7 linked regions of the Homo sapiens genome follow. The protein of the gene in region 4 purifies or fractionates together with the protein of the main gene of each other region. This does not show direct contact. Each region holds a gene or a part of one and is shown on either strand. Other genes may lie near its edges.

Region 1 (3,500 bases), on a different chromosome or scaffold from region 4:
CCACCTTATTCTGGAAATGTAGAAGCAGATGCGTTCTCATACGTACACTCTGTAATTTGAGCCTTACAGCTACGTACAGGGTGGAACAGAACCTAGATAAGGAAACAGATGGAACCAAAAATACTTAAGATGGAAATGCTGGAAAATATTTAGTTTCTGATTTTTTTTTTTTTTTGAGACAGAGTCTTGCTCTGTCACCCAGGCTGGAGTGCAGTGGCGCAATCTCCGCTCACTGCAAGCTCCGCCTCCCAGGTTTACACCATTCTCCTGCCTCAGCCTCCTGAGTAGCTGGGACTACAGGCACCCGCCACCATGCCCGGCTAATTTTTTGTATTTTCAGTAGAGACAGGGTTTCACCGTGTTAGCCAGGATGGTCTTGATCTCCTGACCTCGTGATCCGCCTGCCTCATGCCTCCCAAAGTGCTGGGATTATAGGCATGAGCCACCGCGCCCGGCCACGTCTGGCTAATATTTTTGTGTTTTCAGTAGAGACAGGATTTCACCATGTTAGCCAGGCTGGTCTCAAACTCCTGACCTCAAGTGATCTGACCGCCTCGGCCTCCCAAAGTGCTGGGATTACAGGTGTGAGCCACCATGTCCCACCTTGTATTTACTGTTTATAAAAGAAAAAGGAATTTTATTTGTATCAACTGGCTAATTAATGCAAAATTTGTTTAGTGATTTTGCTAAGCTGAACTCACACTAATAAAGGTAGTTATAAATATGTAATTTATGGAAACCCATTATTTTGTTGCTCTTTGAGATCCTTCTTGTTTTTCTTGTTTGCACTAATACAGATTTTAGGCTATCTGAAAACTGTCAGGAAATGAAAAGTCATGCAGTGAATCATAAAATGAAGATGCACAGTTGATCCTCATTCTTCACAGATTCCGTATTTATGAATTGACCTCATTAAGTCTGTGTAACCCCAAAGTCAATAATCGAGGTGTTCTGTGGTTACTCTGGGACACAGTGAAGAGTGGTAAAAAATTTGGGTTGCCTGTTGCAGGCATTCCCAGCTGAGATGGAACAAGGCAATCAAAACTGTTTTCTTGTTTCAGCTCTCGTACTGCAAACAAGTGTCTTTTTTTGTGGTCTATTTAGTGGTATATTTTTTCGTGCTTTTTTGAGGGGAGAGGGGTGATTTTTTTTATTTTTATTTTGAGACCAATCATTAAACAGCATCATTTCGTTGTTTAAAACGGCCCTCTGATGTAGTGCTGAGCTGAGGTCTAGTGTTTCTAAGTGCAAGAAGGCCACGATGTACTTACAGAGAAAAGGAAAAGGTGTGTATTAGATAGGCTTCAGTCAAGCGTAAGGTATAGGACAGTTGTCCATGTGTTCAGTGTTAGTGAATGAACAATATGTATTTTAAATAAGGTGTCCTTAAACAGGAATGTACAGAAACACACATAAAACAAGGTTATATATTGATCAATTGATAAAAATGTTATGACAGGTTTGCACGAACCAAACCCTGTATTTATTATAGGAGTAATGGTTCAGTACTTGCTAATTGGTGTTTGAGGTGACTTTATAGAAGATAACTACTGTGAGGCCGGGTGCAGTGGCTCACGCCTGTAATCCCAGCACTTTGGGAGGCCATGGCGGGCGGATCATGAGGTCAGGAGATCGAGACCATCCTGGCTAATGCGGTGAAACCCCGTCTCTACTAAAAATAGAAAAAATTAGCCAGGCGTAGTGGCGGGCACCTGTAGTCCCAGCTACATGGGAGGCTGAGGCAGGAGAATGGCGTGAACCCAGGAGGTGGAGCTTGCAGTGAGCAGAGATTGCGTCACTGCACTCCAGCCTGGGCGACAGAGTGAGACTCCATCTAAAAAAAAAAAAAGACGATAACTACTGCGAATAGCAAGAATCAACTGTATTTTAGTGAAATTTACAGTATCTTTTTTACATAGAGTTCTAGAATTTTTAAATGTTTTTCATGTATATTATCTTTGGTTTTCATGTTGGCCTGTGAAGACAGGTGGATATTATTATTATTTTTTTTTTTTAGAGACAGGGTCTTACTCTGTCTCCCATGCTGGAGTGCAGTGGTATGCTCATAGCTTACTGCAGCCTCGAATCCGGGGCACAGACAATTCTTCTGCCTCAGCCTGCTGAGTAGGCAGGAGCCAGGTGCACACCACTGCACACAGCTAATGGTTAGAATTTTTTGTAGAGATGGGGTCTCGCTTTGTTGCCCAGGCTGGTCTTGAAGTCCTGGCTTCAAGCTATCCTCCCACCTTGGCCTGTCAAAGCACTAGGATTATAGGTGTGAGCTACCTTGCCCAGGCTATTATTCTTATACATATGAAATACTGCAAACTAATATTTAGTTCCAAATTGGCTTTTGTCTTAAAATGGTTCACCAAGTAGTAATAAAATTCTCTTTCTATTGTTTGTTTTTTGGTAAATTTAATTTAGCCTGATGAAAACAAAGGCGATATGCATTATGATGCTGAGATTATCCTTAAAAGAGAAACTTTGTTAGAAATACAGAAGTTTCTCAATGGAGAAGACTGGAAACCAGGTGCCTTGGATGATGCACTAAGTGATATTTTAATTAATTTTAAGTTTCATGATTTTGAAACATGGAAGTGGCGATTCGAAGATTCCTTTGGAGTGGATCCATATAATGTGTTAATGGTAAGATGGGATGAGGGCAAGGGCAACGTCATTAAGTTTCCTTTTTAAAATACTTTCCAAACTCCACCATAATTACGTTAAGAACCTGTACTAGGTCACTTATACCGTATTGATGAACAAGCCACAAAATTGTAGAAATGATTTTGTGCTTTTGAGTCCAGTTCTTTTTAGCTGTCTTAAGTGTTTTTGGTGGCTGATTTCTGCTTCTCTCTGTTTTAAGGTACTTCTTTGTCTGCTCTGCATCGTGGTTTTAGTGGCTACTGAGCTGTGGACATATGTACGTTGGTACACTCAGTTGAGACGTGTTTTAATCATCAGCTTTCTGTTCAGTTTGGGATGGAATTGGATGTATTTATATAAGGTATTATATGGATGGAGGGTTTTACAATTTTAACACATTTATTCACAATGAAAGAAGACTCTAATCCATTGAGAGCAATCTTGCCTTGGATGTGGGTTGGAGGCAGTGATTAGAGGTGGCCCACGCTGGAGAGGAATTAAATGGACACTTCTTAGCTGACAGTTTTTTGATTCCTTGACCAGTTAGTGGGTAAAAAAGTTCAGTCCTAATTTTCATAACCCAGTTAATGTTAACATTTGGGCATCTAAGTCAGAATAAAGCCAGGTGGGTTGGGTGTGGTGGCTCATGCCTGTAATCCCAGCATTTTGGGAGGCTGAGGTGGGCAGATCACTTGGTCAGGAGGTCAAGACTAGCCTGGCCAACATGGTGAAACCCTGTCTCTACTAAAAATACAAAAATTAGCTGGGCCTGGTGACGTGCACCTGTAGTCCCAGCTACTCAGCAGGCTGAGGCAGGAGAATTGCTTGAACCTGAGAGGTTGCAGTGAGCC
Region 2 (3,500 bases), on a different chromosome or scaffold from region 4:
GGTGCTCTGACTCTTGTTCCCACACTATTTACACTAAATTATGTTGGGCTGACTTTTTTTCTATTGCACAAGTTTAAAGTTAGCTGTTTGGATGGCAGTCAGGAATTTCTGGATTCCAAGAAACTGTGGTATGAATAAGGGAAATGGATCATCTATCTTATTGACTAAGTGTTAATTTTGTATCATGGTCCTTTGATTTTGAAAATGGACCCCTTGCCCACCAATACCCACTTCCTACATGCTTCTCCCCAAGAAGGTCGTGAAGCTCAGAAATTCTTTTTTTCTTAGGAACACAGAATACTAGCTGAAAAAAGATAACATTACTGAGTCAGTTGATTAGGGCAGACTGGCCCAGGACTTCCACTGTGAGGAGACACTTACCTCTGCTGGGCACCTTATTTTTACTGAATGCAGCAGTTGGCTGATGACCATAGGGATGTATCCCCAATTCTTGGGCATGACTCACAGTTCCTAGCAAAGATTCAGGGTCCCCAGGTCCACCGGTACTCAAGAGCAGAGGGCTGTCATGGCAACCTTTGGTCAATGTACTTGAACTCTTACTGTCTTGGAAGCCATCCTTGGCCCCCTCACACGAGCAGTCCTCCTCCATGCTCTCTGAATGCATCAGTGCCGGCTGGTGAGCATACCCGTGGGGCGGGGTGGGTGAGGAAGCCTGTGAGACACATTCTTGTGCCCTGATTTGTAGCAGATGCTGGGGGCTGGTGTGATGGTGATAAGAGTCAGCATTTTGATAAGATAAAGCCTGGCGCTCTGTCATGCTCTGTCCCCCAAGGCTGGGAGCCAGACTCCCCGCATCCCCTTGGTTCATGTGCCTGAACAGTTCCTGGTATTCTTGCTGTTGCTGCTGTTGCTGCTGCTGCTGCCGTTGTTGCTGCTGCCTTTTAATGAGCTGTGCAAACTCTGTTGGGGGCAGCCGGATGTCCGAGTGGCCGGTGAGCGAATGCCGGGGAGAAAGCAGTCCTTGAAGGATGTGGGGTACCTGCTGGTGTCTTGTATAGTCTGGCGGCGTGGGAGACAGCAGGGCCTGCTGTAGTGCCGACGTGGTATAGTGTGGCGGCTGCTGATGTGCACTGGGAGGGAAGGTGGGGAATTGGTCAAGTGGAGGGACTTTCAGGGCTTGGGTTGGAGAGAACCCCACTCCTGTTGAAGGGCTGTAGCTGCTGGGGGAACCCCGGGACTGGTCCGAAAACAGATGGGGGTGTAAATGCGCCTGGTCGTAGTTAGCAGGGGAGAACCGATTCACGTTCAAGCTGCAGACACAAAAGGGAGTACCAGACATCCATGTAACAAGTACTAGACTTCCTGGGAACAGCTCCTCCTCCTCAGTAGGGAGAACCCACTGGTACAGAGAACTGTGGTGTGACAGAGAAGTGGCAGATGTATGCATTGTCCCTATTTATTCCATTACTGGCTTGTCCAGTAACCTCCAAGGGACTGAGGGCACTGCGTGGGTAATAGATCTAGCTCATTTTGAAGGAAGCAACTTCAAGATGCTCCCTTCAAGAAAAGGGGAACTGGAATTTTTATACATTCCTCTAACAGGCCATTTTCTTCTTTGCAAGCAAATAATAAGGTAGCAAATAATAAGGTAGCTTTCCCATTTTCCACCTCAGTCTCATTAGAATTTTAACCCTGGGTCAATAAAAAGCTGACAAGTTCATTCCAAACCCAGCATCCTGATTTTAGAAAGCGTGAAACAAGAGCACAGCCTAGTCAGACCCATTCTCCTTCCCTCCTTTTCTCTCACTCTGCTAAGGGGCTTCCTCCCACCTGGATCCCATGCATAGATGGCTGGGTGACGTTAGGCGGTCTTACCTGTGAGCCTCTGCACTGTCAGCACTCAGCTGCTTGGACAAGGGACGGTGCCCATAGCTGAGGGTGGCCATCAGGTTGGTACGGTGCTGCATCTGCATCTGACCAGCACTGGGGCTGATGGAGATGCCGCGCCCACTGGAGCCTGCAGCTGTGCCTGGCATGTTGCTGAGCATGTCAACAGGCTCTTGGACTTGGATGGTGACCTGCTGTGACTGAGCAGGCTGCTGCATACCCAAGCAGGTTAGTGCCACGTTGGGAGGAGAGGAACAGTTCTCAGGTTGCTGCTGAAAGATTGCACTGCGGGAAGGTAAGCCTTGAAACTGGGAAGAAGATGCAGCCCCTGGAGAGAAAGGAACCTCAGAGTGACCAAGTGCCCAGGCCACCAGCCAGCCAGAAGTAATGAGAGCTAATGAGAATACTCAGACGACATACCAGCTAGAACAGTGCTTCTCAAACTGCACTGAGCATAGGACAAGTCTGGAGAACTTGTTAAACAGAAGATTCCTGGGTCCTATCTATATAATTCTGTTTCAAACTCTGATTCAGTAGGTCAGGATGGGCCCCTAAGAATTTGTGTTTCCAACAAGTTCCCTTAAAAGCTGGTCCATGGATTACATGGGGTAACTCGGATCTAGGCAGTGCTTCTTGAACTTTCACATGCACACAAATGGCCTGGCATCTGGTTAAAAATGCAGACTCTAGGCCGGGCGTGGTGGCTCACACCTGTAATCCCAGCACTTGGGAGGCCGAGGTGGGCGGATCATGAGGTCAGGAGTTCGAGACCAGCCTGGCCACCATGGCGAAACCCTGTCTCTACTAAAAATACAAAAATTAGCTGGGTGTGGTGGCGGGCGCCTGTAATCCCAGCTACTTGGGAGGCTGAGGCAGGAGAATCATTTGAACCCGGAGGTGGAGGTTGCAGTGAGCCGAGATCATACCACTGCACTCCAGCCTGGGTGACAGGGGGAGACTCCATCTCAAAAAAAAAAAAAACAGACTCTAACAGGTCTGGAATACGACCTGAGATCTTACTTTTTCTCCCAATATTGGTGGCTGGGGGACCCCACTTTAAGTAGGAAGAGCCTAGAGGCCAATTCAGACTCTTCTCAAGGATCCTAGGGAGACTGACTAGGGACGTAGCTCGTGGAGTGTTACTCAAGAGATCCTAAGACGGCTGACCTCTGAAGACTCACAGTCACATTATACTTATCTTCACTCCCATCTGTACACCCACAAGAGAGGGGCCCACGTGTATAGTAGACAGCCAAACGGAGGCATGTCTATAAGGAAGGTTCTGGTAGCTGCTTTTTATTTGGTAGGGCTGGAGGTTTTGTTAAAAATATTAATAATAGTAAACCTTTATTGAGAACTATTTTGTGCCAGAGACTGTTCCAAGTGTTTTACGTATATCTACATACTGTACCATAATTATCCTCAGTTGACATTTGAGAAGTAATATGGTTTGGCTCTGTGTGTACCCACATCTTGAAGTGTAGTCCCCATGTGTCAAGGGAGGGACCTGGTGGGAGGCGACTGGATCACGGGGCAGTTTCCTCCATGCTGTTCTCATGATAATGAGGGAATTCTTGAGATCTGGTTGTCTGATAAGTTTCTGGCGCTTTCCCCTGTGCAATCTCTCTCCTGCCACCATGGAAGATGAGCCT
Region 3 (3,500 bases), on a different chromosome or scaffold from region 4:
GCCCCAAATCACTCCCCTAGGGCCACCCCACTTTGCTCCAAGGGAACAGAGGCCCAGGCAGATGCGCACTTCTCTGGACGGGAGGCATCTGTCCGGGCCTGGCCTGGCTCCTGAAAGCTGAGCTCTGCCGCCCCCTCGAGCCACTGGCCGGCTGTGCTGGCAGGAGCACCGGGCAGCACCCGGGCTCCCTCGCTGTCACTCAGACCAACATATGGGATAGTCATCACTGGAGGAAGCAGCCCCCACATCCCTGGCCGGCTTCCTCCCAGCACAGCAGGGGGCTGCCCACCCGGCAGGCGGCGGTGGCACTGGACAGGCCTGGCAAAGCACCCCCAGGGGCAGCAGGGTCCCACAGGCCCCGCCGAGGCCCCTCCCCCGGCCTCCGCGCTCCGTTTACAATCATCATCGATTTCTCAAAATACCAAATATAAAAAAGTAGCCGACAGGATGTGGCTGCCGACAGCCAGAGCCCCTGGGAGGGGGAGGGGAGACAGGCAGGGAGTGCGCGGCGTGGCCCCCCCGCTCTGAGTGAGCCCGCTGCTCCGGCCAGGAAACCAATTTATTTTGTTTTGTCTCTGTTCTCTGAACGCGCAGCAGAGACCGGATCGGGCGGGCGGCCAAGGCTCCTGCAGCCACAGCCAAGAGAGCCGAAGGATGGGGGAAGAACCTGGGGGGAGGGGGGCGCGTGTCTCCCCCAGGCCCCCCGGGGACAGTTCCTGACAGGCAGGCAGGAAGAGCTCCTTCAGGAAGGCCCTACACCAAAGCCTTCTCCTTCCCCCACAGCCCCCAGGGCCCAAAGGAGACTCTGCCTCACACCCAGGTGCTCCACTGGGACCACAGTCCTACCCTGGGGCCAGGCCACACTGAGGAGGGTATAGGCAGGCACTGCCTCTGGCTTCAGAGCTTCTCAGAGCTTCCAGCCCCTCCCAAATGAGGGCAGCCCCCCGCAGCCAAATCTGCTCTTGGACACAGCCCAGTGCCAGCCTCTCCACGCCGGCGGAACCCAGCCCGGTGCCAGCCTCTCCACGCTGGCGGAGCCCAGCCCGGTGCCAGCCTCTCCACGCTGGCGGAGCCCAGCCCGGTGCCAGCCTCTCCACGCTGGTGGAGCCCAGCCCAGCAGCACGCATCCCCCTTCGCCTGCAAGCTCCTTATGAGAAACAGCCGACCTCCTGCCCCTCCTGAGATGTGCTCCTGGGACTCAGTCAGAGGTCCAGAGGCAACGGCCCCAGCCCACATCAGCCACCACCAGGGGTGGGGGGCAGGGGGACCCCAGGGGAAGGGAAGGGCCACCACTGCCCAGAACATCAGGACATTAGGAGGTGGCCCTGGCCCTGTTCTGCCCGCCTGGCCCCCAGCCAACCTGTGGCCCACCCCACAGCACACACGACAGGGGCACCACCCATGCCCGTGACCCCCACCCCGACCATGACCCCCACCCAGACCATGCACGCCACGCCCAGGGAGCCCACAGCCACCCTGCAGACGCCACAGGAGCCCCCAGAGCCCGTCCACAGGCCAGACACAGGGGCATGGAGCCACACCCAGGTCCTTCCCCTTCACAAGCCATGATGACACACATACATTGCAGTCTTGTGTCCCAGACCCCGAAATTGCTCTTGCAGATGGGGAAGCAGGACGCCCACGTGGGCCTCGGCTCCAACAGTGCGGCCCACCTGCGGCAGGTCCCAGCACCCCCAGGGCAACCCCAGCCCCAACCCCCAGCACCTGCTAGGCTGTGATGGAAGCCGCCCCACCCTGCCCAGTGGGAAGCAGCCCCAGTCCTACCTCCTCATCAGAGCTGTCCTCCGCATACTCATCCCCAATCCGGGCGCTCGCCATCTCTGTCCTCGGGCAAGGAGTGCTGGCCTGCAGAGAGAGAGAGAAAATGGTCACTTCAGGGGATACAGGGTACCCTTTGACCTTGGGGGGATCCCAGGAAGCCCACCACCCCGAAATCTCTGAGCAGCTCCAGCCTGGCACAGGCCTCAGCACAAGGCCGAGAACACCCAGCTCTAAGGGGGCCTCTGGGGGCTGTGGCTGGCACCCGGCGCCGCAGGTCCTGCCCACGGCCCTGTCCTCTGTGAGGGCTGGACTGCAGCCTCCCGGGGCCTCTGTCCCTGGGCTGACACGGGTGTCAGGCTAGACACGGAAGCCACTGGGGCAGTCAGGAGCAAAGCCGCCAGCTGAGGACCAAGACCCACCGCCAACCACCCGTACCCCCATTCATGTCAAAGCCACAGGACTCCTCCCAGGGGCCCCACATGGCGCTCCTGCCGAGCCCCGCCTGGGACGGGGGCAGCATGGTCGGGGGGAAGAAGGAGACGCAGCCGTCGCAGCAGGGTCACTGGGGCCAATGCTCTTGAAGGGGCGGGGGACACACATTGTCCACCCATCCCGGGGGCCACGTCCCGCCCAGTCCAGCCAGCAGAGGGCCCAGAGAGGGCCCCGAACACTCAGAAGGCCTGCCCAGCGTTCTCCCACCCACCACGTCCACAGCCCAGGCTGACCCCATCCCGCCGGGTCACAGAGTGGGCGCCACTGAGAATTCACATCCCAACCTGGAAAACAGATTCTGCCCTCGACTGCGGAGGTGAGGATGGCTCCAACCGGATCGGGTTTACTGGCGGAACCAAGGCTGATGGGGAAAACAGGCCCACCTCTCACCCGTGGGGGCAGTAAAGTGCTCGGGCGCAGGAACCCCAGAGCGAAGGCGGGCACGCCCCCGCCCCCACCCCGAGCCCCTCTTCTCTCCGGCCCGGGCTCCTCCCCTGCCTGTTTTTTCCTTCAATATAAAGAGAGATGGGAGACTAAGTTTTTTCCCAGGCCAGGAACAAGGAAGGATTCAGTTTCCACGTCTCCCCCTGCTGCTGACAGTGGCCTGGGGCGCTCAGTGACACGGAGCTCTTGCCCCTGCCTGGAGCACATGAGCCCCCACAGCCGCAGCAGATCCGTGACCCCGGCCCCAAGCCCCAGACGCGCACAAGGGCAGTTCCACACCCGGCTGCGGTCGGCTGCCCCCGCCTGGCCTCTGCGGACGGGTACCGGGCTGGGCTCCCGACCCCTCACAGTGGCCGGGGCTGAAGCACCGCACGCTGGAGTCCCAGCCTCGCTGCTCATGGGCCGCAGTCCCAGGGTCCTGGCAGGTGACAAAAGACTTGTCACCCAGCGCTCTGTGCCCCGTGGCCCCTGTGCTGGATGTGGACAGGCCACGGCACAGGCAGGCTCTGGGCAGGGGGCAGAGGTGGCCTTCGAAGGTGCTGGGTTCCCAGGGGCGCAGCATCCCCGTGGGACAGCTGTGGGGCACAGAGTCCACCAGGGGGCGACGGCGCTCAGCCAGGCCCAGCGCCCGAAGGGCAGGGGCGGTGCGGGCAGGGGCGGTGCGGGCAGGGGCGGCCACTGCTGGGAACTGCCTGACCTAGAAGGCCCCTTCAGATTTTGGAGGCAGATGCTGTGGGGCATTGAACGTATTTTTTTTAACTTAAAAATTAGAGGAAAAGGCC
Region 4 (3,330 bases):
AGCAGCCACAGAGTCTCAGGGACCAAGCTTTATAAGGAAGCATGTAAGTTTGTATTAATAGCTCGCTGGGTTCCATAGCTCATGCCTATAATCCCAGCACTTTGAGAGGCTGAAGCAAGCAAACTGCCTGAGTCCAGGAGTTTGAGACCAGCCTGGGCAAGATGGCGAAACCTCATCTCTACTAAAAATAAAAAAAATTAGCCAGGCATAGTGGTATGCGCCTGTAATCCCAGCTATTTGGGAGGCTGAGGTGGGATGATCACCCGAGCCCAGGAGGTAATGACCCTGTCTCTCAGGGGGAAAAAAAAAAAGTTTAAATATAGCTCACTGGCCAGCCATTCTCTCCTCTAGGGAAGGTGAGGATCTAAACCTGATGGGCTCCTGAAACTAGGGCTTCCCAGCTTAGGTTTGCAGGTTCAAGGGTAGTATAGGTCTATCCTTCTTCCTTCCTTCTCTTCTCACTTTGGACTCGCAGTCCAGAAACCCAGCAAATTCTCATGTAAGATAGAAAGATTTTCTTTATTAATGACCCCAACCGTATTTCTTTAGATACAGGAGTTTTGAACTCAAATACTTAGGAGAAAACAAGTTATGACTGCATTATCCTGCAACTCATTACCAGTAATATATTGCAAAGCGAAACAGCTTGGAAAAGAGGGTGGGAGAAAAGGGAAGTGAGGGAGGGAAGATAAAGAAAAGGAATTAAGTTGATCAAGTGGAATTCTTTTTTTTTTTTTTTTAATTCTTGGGAACTATGAAGTCTTTGCAAGCACAGCTCGTTTCTGCAGATTATTTTCCAAACGTGTACAAAATGGAACCAAAACGGAGAATCCCTTAAGAACCTGAAGAGGCGCAACATTAAAAGCTACGATTATCCAGTAGCAAGTGTTCCAGCCTTCAGTTGCCAGCCGCTTCCTCCTCTTATTCCCAAGATTAGCGGGATGAAAACGTCTTCCCCCTTCAAAAGGAGAGATAAGTGCGAAGGTCAGTTTCTGGCTGCCCTTTCCTCCCACCCCACACTCCTAGACTAGATGGGATCCCAAAGAAACACCAAATGAGAGGTGGAAAGGGCTAGATTCCTTAAGCAGAGGCACTGGAACCACAGGACATCGGCTAAAATCTGGCTTTCACAGAATGGTTTCACGAGCTCTTCCTTCCTATTGGATACTTTGGATGCCCGGGAATATCAGTGTTAAGCCCACAAGGACATTCAACGTACCAAGTTAGATAGAAGAATCACTTGTTCACAATTTCTGGATGGCCTAGACGTACCTGAATTTCCGACTAGGCTCAAACCGTCTTCTTAGTACTACCTCATTTGTCAGCTCCTCCTACACAGTGTATACCTCTCAGGGCTCCCAGATAGCAGTTCCTTTATCTCTCACCATGAAGGCAGGTGGCTGGTTCAGAGCAATCCTCAGAACTTCCAAGGCTAAAGGTATTTCTGCTATCACGTGGTGACTCCTCCTCTGGCTTATACAACACCTGCCTGGTTCGAGGCTCCTGAATTGTGGTGTCCTGTTCCACCCAGTATTTCTCCAGATGGGCTAGGTGGTTCTCAAGGACAGAGCCTCTAACTGGTACCTAACAGTATCTGGGAAAGCAGCCTGGAAGCTAGAGCTGAGAACTATGGGAAATCAGGGCAAAAACATGGGCTCTAGATTTTCCCTGTCTTGGATGTATCGCTTATTCCAAAATGAAGCTACACCTTATTATCCTTCTCTCCAAATGAAAAGCTCCTGAGTGTTCAATTCTGGGCGGCCCATCGAGGGTTCCTGGCTTCTGCCCACAGCTGAGTCACTTAACTCCTACCCACCATTAGTAACATAATCTGGTTTTCAGGGTGGATGCAGCTGTTTGTCTCCTGCTTCTCCTTTCTGGGGCCCAACTCTGCCAAAGAGAAGCTGCAGCACAGAAGAAGGCAAAGTTGCTCTTTCTAAGTCCCAGAGAGGAGGCTTATGAACAGTCTGTTCATTTTAAGGATTCATCCCTTCCTGGGTCTCTCACCAGGACAGGGAGCTATCCCTGCCCGCTACACAACTGCACTCACTGGGCAGGGACTCCCACGACTGCCTGCTGGCTGTGGAATCGGGCAGCAGCTGCCTAACAGGCCTTCCTCCTGGATGCACAAGCAGCTACCAGTGCCAAAGGTGATGCTGGCAGCCCTGAGACTATTATGATGCCCAGCCTTCCAGTCCGGTTATCACAGGCTGCCAGGTCAGGCTTCCCTCTCACTGTACCTGGCTGCCAGTTTACCTCTTGGCCTCTACTGAACTGCCTGTCTACTGGGCCCTGAAAGCAGCATGAAATTCACTGCCTCACACTCCAGGTCACCAAACAAGTACCCGGTGAGAAAAGTACTCCTGTGTAGAGCAAGCAGGGAAAGGGGAAAATGTAGACACCAGGATGGAGACTAGGTTCTGGAGAGGCAGCAAGCACATCCTCTCACCTGCCCACCCACCTTGTTGGTCACTTTGCCCATTTAAAGATCTGCCCAAGAAGCTGCAGAAAAGAAACGATGCTGCCATTTCATTGCATGGCATTTGGACACTCCTCTCTGAGCTGCTACAGAGACAGGCCTTTGCCTAAAGAAGTCGAGGTGACTTAAAAAGTGCTTTTTTTTTTGAGATGGAGTTTCGCTCTTGTTGCTCAGGCTGGAGTGCAATGGTGCGATCTTAGCTCACCGCAACCTCTGCCTCCCGGGTTCAACTGATTCTCCTGCCTCAGCCTCCAGAGTAGCTGGGATTACAGGCATGCACTACCATGCCTAGCTAATTCTGTATTTTTAGTAGAGATGGGGTTTCTCCATGTTGGTCAGGCTGGAGGTCTCCAACTCCTGACCTCAGGTGATCCGCCTGCCTCGGCCTCCCAAAGTGCTGGGATTACAAGCGTGAGCCACCGCACCTGGCCTTAAACTGCTTTTTGACAATGTCTGAAAACCCTCACCTACTGCTCAAGTCCTTGATCTCTTTCTCATCCTTTCAAATGACAGCAGAAACTAACTTGGTAGAAGAGCCCTCAAATGCAAGAGAGAGAGTGTAAAGCCCTAGGCGTACCACACCCACTAAAACTTTGCCTCAAGAGTACTGAGTGCTGGGCCAGGTGTGGTGGCTCATGTCTGTTATCCCAACACTTTGGGAGGCTGAGGTGGGAGGATCACTTGAGTCCAGGAGTTCGAGACCAGCCTGGACAACATGGTGAAATCCCGTCTCTACAAAAATACAAAAATTAGCCAGCTGTGATGGTGCATGCCTGTGGTCCCAGCTACTTGGGGGGCTGAGATGGGAGGATTGCTTGAGCCCAGGAGGTTGAGCCTGGCTGGGGATCACA
Region 5 (4,072 bases), on a different chromosome or scaffold from region 4:
CCTCGGCCTCCCAAAGTGCTGGGCTGGGTGCGGTGGCTCAAGCCTGTAATCCCAGCACCTTTCGGGGCAGCAGGAGCACTTGAGGCCAGGAATTTGAGACCAGCCTGTGCAACATAGCAAAACCATCTCTAAAAAACTTTTTTAGATAATAAAAAATTTGGAATATATGAGCTTCTTAACCTACTACTAAACAAGATTGAGTAGCAGGACTAAACTATATATATATATATATATATATATATATATATATAATTTATTTTTTTTGAGAGGGCGTCTCACTCTTGCCCAGGCTGGAGTGAAATGGCAGGATCTCGGCTCACTGCAACCTCCACCTCCCAGGTTCAAGCGATTCTCCTGCCTCAGCCTCCCACGTAGCTGGGACTACAGGAGCGTGCCACCATGCCCAGCTAATTTTGGTACTTTTTAGTAGAGATGGGGTTTCGCCATGTTGGCCAGACTGGTCTCGAACTGCTGACCTTAAGTGATCTGGCCTCCTCAACCTCCCAAAGTGCTGGGATTACAGGTGTGAGCCACCACACCTGGCCCTACCTTTTAATCTTGAAGTAGTGAGAATGCAAAACCTGCAACAACTGTTATGTGAAACAAAATGTGGTTTCTAGCGATGACGAACTGTGGGTTCTGCTAATAGCACCAGACTGCAAAAGGGTCCTGACCCACACTAGATTATAAGTAGGGCTCATTTCTTTATCAGACCCAAGGTCATTTCCCTTGTTTCACTCTAAAATACCCCTCCCCAGTCCAGGCGCAGTGACTCACGCCTGTAATCCCATCACTTTAGGAGATGGAGGTGGAAGGATCACCTGAGGTCAGGAGCTCGAGACCACCCTGGCCGAATGGCAAAACCCCGTCTCTACTAAAAATACAAAAATTAGCCGGGTATAATGGCAGGCGCCTGTAATCCCAGCTACTTGGGAGGCTGAGGGAGTAGAATCGCTTGAACCCAGGAGGCGTAGGTTGCAGTGAGCGGAGATGGCACCATTGCACTCCAGCCTGGGCGACAAGAGCGAAACTCCGTCTCAAAAAATGAAATACCCCACCCCAACCCCACCCGCACACTTACCCGCCACTAATCCTACCCCTAATCCACTAAACTACTTACCAAGTCTCAGCAGTTCATCCGCCTCTGTACCTTCGCTGGGAAGACGAACTCCGCAGAGCAGGACTCGGGTCTACTCTAAGCTGTGCCTTGGTGCCTAGAATTCAAGTCAAGTTCATAACACCAAAGTTTAAGGTTTATTTAATGTAGAAAATCACCTTATATTGAAGACTGGGAAAAAAAAGCACTTATCTATGCATGTGTTTGCTTAAAAAGGCACACACAATTAGCAGAGTCTGGGGTGTAAGTCGGGAGAGGGCTGCAGGGAATGGGAGGACCCAGAGGTGGATCTGAGGAGGCCAGGGAGGGGCCGGAGAGAATGGTTTCTTCTTTGTGAGAGTTGGGGTCTATTATTATGGAAGGCACGCTTTCCTTTTGCAATTTGAACAAGAATTCGATTTGCCTAACAATCGGAGGAAATTGAAGAAAATGCAAAAGTTATTACTTCCAAATCAATTTTTCCAGTCACATAATTAAACACTTTTTTTTTTTTTTGAGACGGAGTTTCGCTCTGCCGCCCAGGCTGGAGTGTAGTGGCCCGATCTCGGCTCACTGCAACCTCCGCCTCCCCGGTTCAAGCGATTCTCCTGCCTCGGCCTCCCTAGTAGCTGGGACTACAGGCGCGAGCCAACACACCCGGCTAATTTTGTATTTTTGGTAGAGACGGGGTTTCCCAAGTTGGCCAGGATGGTCTCGATCTCCTGACCTCGTGATCCGCCCCCGCCTCGGCCTCCCAAAGTGCTGGAAAATAACACGCCCGGCCCTCCATCTTTTTTTATTTGAGACAGTTTCGCCCCTGTTGCCCAGTCTGGAGCGCAATGGCGCGATCTCGTCTCAGTGCAACCTCTGCCTCTCGGGTTCAAGCGATTCTCCTGCCTCAGCCTCCTGAGTAGCTAGGATTACAGGCATGCGCCACCACGCCTGGCTAATTTTGTATTTTTAGTAGAGACGAGGTTTCTCCATGTTGGTCAGGATGGTCTCGAACTCCGACCTCAGGTGATCCGCCCGCCTCGGCTTCCCAAAGTGCTGGGATTACAGGCGTGAGCCACTGCTCCCGGCCCCTCCATCCTTTTTCTAAAGCTAGGACTTGTCAAGCACCACCTCATTTTCTTGACTTTATTTTTTCTTCACAGAACTACTTTCATGTTTCCAATTTGGGGATAGATAAGTCTTAGGAGAGTTTTTTTCTCATTGCGCCACGGACAGTAAGGGAAAGAGCAGGGAGTCAAGTGAGGGGGCCAACTGCCTGCCCCTACCCGGGCCCCACGCACGCACCCGGATCAGCCTTGCCTGGGGCACCTCGGGCCTCACGTACCTGGGCCAGCCTTACCCGGGGCACCCCGCGCCCTTCGCGCCTGGACCAGCCTTATCCGGGGCACCCTGGACCTCACGCTCCTGGACCAGCCTTACTTGGGGCGCTGCGGACCCCACGCGCCTAGACCAGCCTTACCCGGGGCACCCCGGACCCCACGCCCCTGGACCAGCCTTACCCGGGGCACCCCGGACCCCACGCGCCTGGCCCAGCCTTACCCGGCGCGCCCCGGACCCCACGCGCCTGGGCCAGCCTTACCCAGGGCACGCCGGGCCCCATGCACCCGGGCCAGCCTTACCTGGCGAAAAAGGAATCCGCCTGGACGACTGAGGAGCGAACAAAGTGAGGATGGAGCCTTGTAACTAAGGACTGAGAGGATTCCCGATCTCTGGGGCTGGCTCCTCCCCTCCTGGTGTGTCCCAACCCCCTCTGTCTACATACCCGCGCCTCCTCCCCGGAAATCGCATTCCGCCCTAAGCAATTGCTGACTTCCATTGCTGCCCCCCGACTGAGTCCAATTCCCTCTGTCTCCACCGTGCCTCCGCTTGAACGAGCCCCACCCCTCAGACCCGACTCCAGACTCAAATCTGAATAAAGGCACCACTAAAGCGCCTCATCACCCAGGCCTGAACCCCAAGGTCACCTCATTCCTTTTCTTCAACCCTCGCAGTTAATCCATTCCTAAGTCCTTGAATTTGCCGGCGTCTCTCCAACTCCACAGCTCCAGCCCAGTCCAAGCCCCCGTTGTCTCTCACCTGGATCACTGAAATCACCTCCAACTGCTCCCTGGCCTCTCCCACGACCCCTCTGTAATCCTTCTCCCCCTCCAATACTGTTCAGTGGCTTCCTGTTTCGGTTAAATTTCTACCTTCTCATTCTATCCGGACTGCCCCTTCAACATTGTCTTAGCACTACTCTTACAACAGAAACACTCTCTTTCTGTTCCTCAAAAAACACGGAACTACCTGCCTCAGGGCCCTTGCACTGGCTGTTTCCTCTGCGAGTTATTTTTTTCTTTTTCTTTCTTTCTTTCTTTCTTTTTTTTTTTTTTTGAGACAGTCTCTGTTGCCACAGCTGGAGTGCAGTGGCATGATCTTGGCTCACTGCAACCCCGGCCTCCTGGGTTCAAGCAATTCTCCTGCCTTAGCCTCCCAAGTAGCTGGGATTACAGGAGCACGCCACCACTCCCGGAAAATTTTTGTATTTTTTTTTTTTCTTTTTGAGACAGAGTTTTCTTATGTCACCCAGGCTGGAGTGCAGTGGCGCAATCTCGGCTCACTGCAACCTCTGCCTCCTGGATTCAAGCGATTTCTCCTGCCTCAGCCTCCTGAGTAGCTGAGATTACAGGCCCATGCCACCACGCCTGGCTAGTTTTTGTATTTTTAGTAGAGGGGGGTTTCACCATGTTGGTCAGGCTGGTCTTGAACTTCTGACCTGGTGATCCGCCCACCTCAGCTTCCCAAAGTGATGGGATTACAGGCGTGCGCCACCACGCCTGGCCACCTCTTTATTTTCCCAGTTCTTTCAGGATGGCTTCTGTTCATCCTCAGGTCTCAGGTCCAATGTTAACTCCTCTAACAGGCCTCCCAGACTACCCTTTCTACAGGAGCCAAACTCCCCATATCCCAATACTCTTTTTTTGT
Region 6 (3,500 bases), on a different chromosome or scaffold from region 4:
ATTTTGGTCGTTGCACCCAGGCCTCTTGTCCGTTTCTGGGGAAAGATAAAGACAAGGTCCATAGTCACCCTCCCTAATGGTTTATACTCTCTCTCTCCTTTCTTTCACACACACACACCCCCCACACACATGCACAGCTCTCCATGCCCAGCTCACCTTCTCAGGCTCCAGGCCATCTTCCATCTGGTCAGGCCTCCTCTTGAGTCTGCTTCCTGAGAGAGGCAGCTGGGAAGGGGCCTTAATCAGAGGTCTCTTCAGTTCTATGTTCCCCTTTACTTCCAATAGGGGGGACCTCTGTTGGGAAAAGAGACCCTTAAGACAATACCCAGGAGCCCAAATGTCCCAAGAACTTCCTGTCTTGGCCCCCAGCCTCAATTGTCAACACCACCACCAAGCACTGAGCACCACTTGTGCCAAAAGCTGAATTATGTGCCAGACAGCATGAACAGAAGTGAGGACATAACCTAAAAGTGGGAATAACCTCTAGGGGAAAAGCTGGACTTGACTAACTTTAAGGGTGGGACTCAAACAAGCAGAGAGGAATGGATGCTCTTCCTGGAAGGCAAAAATTCAAATATGTACATAGCATGGCTAAGAAACCAACTGGCCCTTTTGGCTGGAGCTGAGAATCATAAACAAGGGAGAGAGTGGAAGATATGTGAGTGTTGAAGACTGCTTGGGAGAATCAGGCAATATTTACTGAGCCATGTTTGAAATGTTTCACCTGGACCGGGTGCAGTGGCTTATGCCTGTAATCCCAGCACTTTGGGAGGCAGAGGTGGGCAGATCACAAGGTCAGGAGTTTGAGACTAGCCTGACCAACATGGTGAAATCCCGTCTCTACTAAAAATACAAAAATTAGCTGGGTGTGGTGGCACATGCCTGCAATCCCAGCTACTCGGGAGGCTGAGTCAGGAGAATCGCCTGAACCTGGGAGGCAGAGGTTGCGGTGAGCCGAGATCACGCCACTGCACTCCAACCTGGGCAATAGAGTAAGACTCCGTCTCAAAAAAAAAAAAAAAAAAAGGGCATTAGAACTTAATTCTGGGCGAGCACGGTGGCTTATGCCTGTAATTCCAGCATTTTGGGAGGCTGAGGCGGGCAGATTACTTGAGGTCAGGAGTTCAAGACCAGCCTGACCAACATGGTGAAACCCTGTTTCTACAAAAATTACCCAGGCATGGTGGCATGTGCCTGTAATCCAGCTACTTGGGAGGCCAAGGAGGAGAATCGCTTGAACGATTGGTGGAGGTTGCGGTGAGCCGAGATCACAACACTGCACTCCAGCCTGGGTGACAGAGCGAGACTACGTCTCAAAAAAAAAAAAAAAAAAAAGAACTTGGCCAGGCGCGGTGGCTTATGCCTATAATCCCAGCACTTTGGGAGGCCGAGGCGGGCAGATCACAAGGTCAGGAGATCAAGACCATCCTAGCTAACACGGTGAAATCCCGTCTCTACTAAAAAATACAAAAAATTAGCCGGGCGTGGTGGCAGGCGCCTGTAGTCCCAGCTCCTGGGGAGGCTGAGGCAGGAGAATGGCGTGAACCCGGGAGGCGGAGCTTGCAGTGAGCCAAGATTGTGCCACTGCACTCCAGCCTGGGTGACAGAGCGAGACTCCGGTCTCAAAAAAAAAAAAAAGAAATTAATTCTCATGGAACCTAGTTGAAAGGGGCTATTCTAGAAGCTTGAGGGCTAAGCTAGGCAGACATCCACCTTAGCGAACCAGATGACATTTGCCTGTGGTCCCAGCTACAAGGGAGGCTGAGGTGGGAGGATGGCTTGGGCCCAGATCAAGGCTGCAGTGAGCCGTGATCATGCCACTGCACTCCAGCACTCCAGCCTGGGCGACATATTGAGATCCTGTCTCAAAAAAAAAAAAAAAAAAAGAAAAGAAAAGAAAGAAAAAGAAAAAGAAAAGAAATAACACAGAGATCTGAGTACCTGAAGAGTTGTTTTTTGTTTATTTGTTTTTGAGACAGGGTTGCCCAAGCTGGCTTTGAACTTTGAGTTCAAGTGCTCCTCCTGCCTTAGCCTCTTAAGTGCCTAGGACAACAAGCACATGCCACTGGACCCAGCAGGATTGGTTTCATGGATGCTAAGTTCAATTTTGGGAAAGTGAGTTTGAGCTACCCGTGATACAGTGAGATTTACTCAAGGAAGTTCACAGAGCATCATTATTTTTAAAAATCATGAAACAACCTGATACACTGTTTTCTTTTGTTTTTATTATCATAACCCCTACATAAGACTGTGAGCACCATAAGAATTCATCTGTTTTGTTCATAACTATATAACCAGAGGGCCTAGTACAATGTCTGCTACATGGTAGGACTCTACAGTTTTTGAAGGAATGAAATTGAATGTTCATCAGTGGGGCAATACTTAAACTGTGATATATCCATACCATTGGCTTCTATAAAAATAAAAAGGGAAAAAAAGAGGTAGCATTTTTCCTGCCACCTACAGAAGTGTGCACAAAGAAAGCTTATTTTAATTTAGTGTAATCAAATATAGTATGGAAACCAAATTTTTCTTTAAGTATTCCAAAGTCAAACACTAATTTTTAAAAATAACCTGTGCCCTTCCTCCTCTCTACACTACCGTAGTGGATCTGCTACAGACCTACCTCCTTGGAATTTATGCCGGTTCAGAAAATGTGTTTAAAGGTTTGTTTATTCAGGACAACTCCAAAGACCACAGTATATATATTTTTCCCATCTATTAATATAAAGCTAGAATGATGCCCTCCAACTTTCCACAGTGAGAAGCATAAGCACTTAACCTTCTATAAGAACAGATATTCATGCAACCCTGCCTACATCCACCTCACCACAAGATCAGAGGTGGATGGCCCTGCTCCTAAGGCAACCCTTTCATATATGCATCACATTCCCATCCCTCCTCACCAAATCCTGGACTCGCCAAATCCTCCCAGTTTCAGGAACATTCCTCCAGCAATCCTCCCTTCTCACCTCTGCACCATCAGCTTTGTACTCTATGGCATCACTCCAATTGGCATACCACAAACTCTATTATTTCTTCGAAACTAAAAGAATCTGAACTCTGCTTTCCCTAACAGGTACTATCCTTTTTCCTTGCCGCCTTTCGCAGCAAAACTCTAAAGTATTACCTCTAGTGTATTCATCGTGGCCAATTTCTCTCCTAAGCCCATTGCAATCAGGCTTTCATTCCCACCATTCCATCGAAATTGCTATCCTCAAGATCACAAGTAACTTCATGTTGCTAAGTCAATTCTTTATCTTCATTTTCTTGACCCATCAAACAGCATCTGATACAACTGATTACTCCCTTTTCCTTAATAGGCTTTCTTCAGTTAGCTTCCAGGAGACCACTCTTTCTTACCTCACTGGCAGGTCCTCCTCATCTCTCCAGATTTTAACAGCATTCTCTATCTATACTCACTATCCACTCCCATGCCTTTAAATATCATTGATATGCTGACAGTTTCCAAATTTATATGTCCAGCTCAGACCTCGATC
Region 7 (3,500 bases), on a different chromosome or scaffold from region 4:
CCAAGAGAGCCCCTGCCTTGGTCCCACCCTATCCCTGGTGACTGACTGTCCCTGCCCAGGAGCTGAGTCCTGGAAGCGCACCCTGGGAGGGGGCATCTCAGGCCCAGCACACCTTTACCCATGAGCCATGTGGGCCACAGGGGTCATTAAAGGATGGAGAGAGGCAGTCATCAAGGCACACAGTTAAACAGCACTTGAGTATATAATTAGTTCAATGTGAAACCACAGATGGGCAACACTGCACTGTTTGCTCAGGGATTTGGTGGGAGCCTGGGGCCACAGGGAAGGGGCCTTGGGTGGGGCTTGGGCCACGGCAAGTACCTTGTCTAGGCCATGGAGTATCTGGTCCATCTCGGCCTTGGTGAGGAGCCCTGCCTTCTCCAGGCCCCTGCTGTAGGCTTTGCTGCCTTGAACATCCACCTCCCAAAGGTGCCGGTCGTAGGCAATGGACGCGTTGAACTTCTCCATGATGGGGTCCACTGCACCCACAAACCGGCCACCCCAAAGCTTCCCACTCTGGCCAGGAGAGCAAGAACAATTAGTCTCTCCTCCACCCTCCAGAACAGTGCTTCTTGCAAAGAGTCTTTGGGAAACTTATCAAGTCTGATGGTAGCAGGGGCATCAGATCATTCTAACTGGGCAGACAAGGAGGCTGAGACCTTCCCAGAGTCACCACCCTGGGAGTGAGCATGGGAACATGGCTGAACACCAAAAGTTTGGGTTCTTTTTTTTTTTTTTTGAGACAGAGTCTCACTTTGTCGGCCAGGCTGGAGTACAGTGGTGCCATCTCAGCTCACTGCAAACTCTGCCTCCCAGGTTCAAGAGATTCTCCTGCCTCAGACTCCCAAGTAGCTGGGATTACAGGCACGTGCCACCACACCCAGCTAATTTTTGTATCATTAGTAGAGATGGGGTTTCACCATGTTGGCCAGGCTGGTCTTGAACTCCTGACCTCAGGTGATCCTCCCATCTTGGCCTCTGAAAGTGCTAGGATTACAGGCATGAGCCACTGTGTGTGGCCTTGAAGTTGGGGTTCTTTCCCACCACATGGCACCCCTCCAAGGAGATGATGGCAGGGCCTGAGACACCCCTGGGACCACAGCAGAACTTCTGGAACCTTTCCCACCACTGACCAAGGTGCTAGGTGCCATCCTAATTGTTGACACAACCCTCTGGGTAGGCACCAATACAATTCCACTATGAAGATGGGGAAACTGAGGCACAGAGCAGCCTGCTCTCACCTGGGGTGGGATAGCCAGGGCTGCGGCCCAGCAGTCTGAAGTCAGAACCTATGCTTTTCACCCCTGTTCCACCAGGGCTTCTGGACTTGGCTCTGGTGTCCAGAACCTTTGCTGCAGGGACAGGCAAAGAGGCCTTGAGGGTCTCCACCAAGCTTAAGTGCCCTGCAACTCTCTCCCTCACAGCTTGGAGCTGGACTAAGATCCCAATTCCTACCACTCCCTTGGCTCTGAAAAGCACCCTGACACCCCCCATTGTCACTGGCCTTCTAGGAGGTCACTGGGTGATCCCTTACTCCCCAGGAGCCAAGGGCAGAGGAATGGTATGTAGGCATCTATGTTTTGTTCGTTTTCTTTGAGATAGAGTCTCACTCTGTTGCCTAGGCTGGAGTGCAGTGGCGTGATCTCGGCTCACTGCAACCTCCACCTCCCGGCTTCAAGCCAATTTTCCTGCCTCAGCCTCCCGAGTAGCTGGAATTTCAGGCGTGTGCCACCACACCTGGCTGAGTTTTATATTTTTAGTAGAGACGGGGTTTCACCATGTTGGTCAGGCTGGTCTCGAACTCCTGATCTCAGGTGATCCCCTGACCTTGGCATCCCGAAGTGCTTGGGATTACAGGCATGAGCCACTGTGCCGAGCCTGTTTTGTTCATTAAAAAAATCTTTTTTAATTCTTTTTTTTTTTTTTTTTTTTTGAGATGGAGTCTCTCTTTGTCACCCAGGCTGGAGTGCAGTGGCAGGATCTTGGCTCACTGCAAGCTCCACCTCCCAGATTCACGCCATTCTCCTGCCTCAGCCTCCTGAGTAGCTGGGACTACAGGTGCCCACCACCATGCCTGGCTAATTTTTTGTATTTTTTTTTTTCAGTAGAGACGTGGTTTCACCTTGTTAGCCAGGATGGTCTTAATCTGACCTCGTGATCTGCCCACCTCGGCCTCCCAAAGTCCTGGGATTACGGGTGTGAGCCACCACACCCGGCCTTTAAATTCTTTTTTAGACACAGGGTCTCACTTTGTTACCCAGGTTGGAGTGCGGTGGCACCATCATAGCTCACTGCAGCCTCAAACTCCTGGTCTCAACCAATCCTCTTGCCTCAGCCTCCCCAATAGTTGGGACTACAAGCATGCGCCACCACACCCAGACATTTTTTTAAAATTTTATAGGACTGGGAGTGGTGGCTCATGCCTGTAATCCCAGCATTTTGGAAGGCTAAGGTGGGTGGATCATGAGGTCAGGAGACAGAGACCATCCTGGTCAACATGGTGAAACCTGGTCTCTACTAAAAATACAAAAATTAGCCAGGCGTGGTGGCACTCGCCTGTAGTTCCAGCTACTTAGGAGGCTGAGGCAGGAGAATCGCTTGAACCCGGGAGGCGGAGGTTGCAGTGAGCCAAGATCACGCCACTGCACTCCAGCCTAGGTGACAGAGCAAAACTCTGTCTCAAAATAAATAAATAAATGAACAAAATAAAATAAAATAAAATAATTGGTAGAGACAGGGTCTCACTATGTTGCCCAGGCTGGTCTTGAATTCCTGGGCTCAAGCTGTCCTCCAGCCTCAGCTTCCCAAAGTGCTGAGATTATAGGCATGAGCCTAGGCGCCAGCCACATCTATGTTTTGAAAGAGGGCAGAGGCCAGGGCATGGGACAGAGTGGGGAGGGGGTACAGAACACCTGGGGAGCAGCCCTAGTGCCCAGGACTGGGAGGAGGGTGGGGTAGAGGTGGGCATGTCACTTCACTGACGTCCTTTTTGTGGAAGGGAGTCTACAATGGCCAATGGGGACATATATCCTCCTCTGTCCCCCTACAATGCCCCAGACTTCTATTAACCACCTGGCCTGGCACCTATTATTAAACCTCAGGGGCTGGGCGTGGTGGCTCACACCTATAATCCTAGCACTTTGGGAGGCTGAGGTGGGCAGATCACGAGGTCAGGAGATGGAGACCATCCTGGCTAACATGGTGAAACTCCGTCTCTACTGAAAACACACACAAAAAAATTAGCCAGGCATGGGGGTGTTGGGCGCCTGTAGTCCCAGCTACTTGGGAGGCTGAGGCAGGAGAATGGCGTGAACCCGGGAGGCGGAGCTTGCAGTGAGCTGAGATCGTGCCACTGCACTCCAGCCTGGGCGACAGAGCAAGACTCTGTCTCAAAACAAAAACAAAAACAAAAACCCTCAGGGTTGGGAGGCCCAGGCAGGTGGATCGCTTGAGGTCAGGAGTTCGAGATCAGCCTGGCCAACATGGTGAAACCTCATCTG

Evidence for each region.
Region 1: the proteins of ARPC2 (region 4) and CLCC1 fractionate together in Homo sapiens (co-fractionation; one large-scale study listed by BioGRID). This does not show direct contact.
Region 2: the proteins of ARPC2 (region 4) and SIK3 purify together in Homo sapiens (affinity purification with mass spectrometry; one large-scale study listed by BioGRID and IntAct). This does not show direct contact.
Region 3: the proteins of ARPC2 (region 4) and BOP1 purify together in Homo sapiens (affinity purification with mass spectrometry; one large-scale study listed by BioGRID and IntAct). This does not show direct contact.
Region 5: the proteins of ARPC2 (region 4) and L1TD1 purify together in Homo sapiens (co-immunoprecipitation; one large-scale study listed by IntAct). This does not show direct contact.
Region 6: the proteins of ARPC2 (region 4) and KIFC1 purify together in Homo sapiens (affinity purification with mass spectrometry; one large-scale study listed by BioGRID and IntAct). This does not show direct contact.
Region 7: the proteins of ARPC2 (region 4) and ASL fractionate together in Homo sapiens (co-fractionation; one large-scale study listed by BioGRID). This does not show direct contact.

What each region holds. Positions count from the first base shown.
Region 1 is NC_000001.11:108,942,985-108,946,484, reverse strand, and holds part of CLCC1 (chloride channel CLIC-like protein 1 isoform 1 precursor), read left to right. Parts: intron 1-2,427; coding exon 2,428-2,649; intron 2,650-2,869; coding exon 2,870-3,010; intron 3,011-3,500. UniProt on the Homo sapiens protein: Anion-selective channel with Ca(2+)-dependent and voltage-independent gating. Permeable to small monovalent anions with selectivity for bromide > chloride > nitrate > fluoride.
Region 2 is NC_000011.10:116,857,429-116,860,928, forward strand, and holds part of SIK3 (serine/threonine-protein kinase SIK3), read right to left. Parts: intron 2,177-3,500; coding exon 1,837-2,176; intron 1,272-1,836; coding exon 382-1,271; intron 1-381. UniProt on the Homo sapiens protein: Positive regulator of mTOR signaling that functions by triggering the degradation of DEPTOR, an mTOR inhibitor. Involved in the dynamic regulation of mTOR signaling in chondrocyte differentiation during skeletogenesis.
Region 3 is NC_000008.11:144,274,439-144,277,938, forward strand, and holds part of BOP1 (ribosome biogenesis protein BOP1), read right to left. Parts: intron 1,867-3,500; coding exon 1,786-1,866; intron 1-1,785. UniProt on the Homo sapiens protein: Component of the PeBoW complex, which is required for maturation of 28S and 5.8S ribosomal RNAs and formation of the 60S ribosome.
Region 4 is NC_000002.12:218,251,519-218,254,848, reverse strand, and holds the end of ARPC2 (actin-related protein 2/3 complex subunit 2), read right to left. Parts: intron 959-3,330; coding exon 934-958; 3' UTR 501-933; downstream 1-500. UniProt on the Homo sapiens protein: Actin-binding component of the Arp2/3 complex, a multiprotein complex that mediates actin polymerization upon stimulation by nucleation-promoting factor (NPF).
Region 5 is NC_000001.11:62,193,577-62,197,648, reverse strand, and holds the start of L1TD1 (LINE-1 type transposase domain-containing protein 1), read right to left. Parts: upstream 2,801-4,072; 5' UTR 2,728-2,800; intron 1,215-2,727; 5' UTR 1,121-1,214; intron 1-1,120.
Region 6 is NC_000006.12:33,394,823-33,398,322, reverse strand, and holds part of KIFC1 (kinesin-like protein KIFC1), read right to left. Parts: intron 295-3,500; coding exon 157-294; intron 36-156; coding exon 1-35. UniProt on the Homo sapiens protein: Minus end-directed microtubule-dependent motor required for bipolar spindle formation. May contribute to movement of early endocytic vesicles. Regulates cilium formation and structure.
Region 7 is NC_000007.14:66,078,819-66,082,318, reverse strand, and holds part of ASL (argininosuccinate lyase), read right to left. Parts: intron 517-3,500; coding exon 322-516; intron 1-321.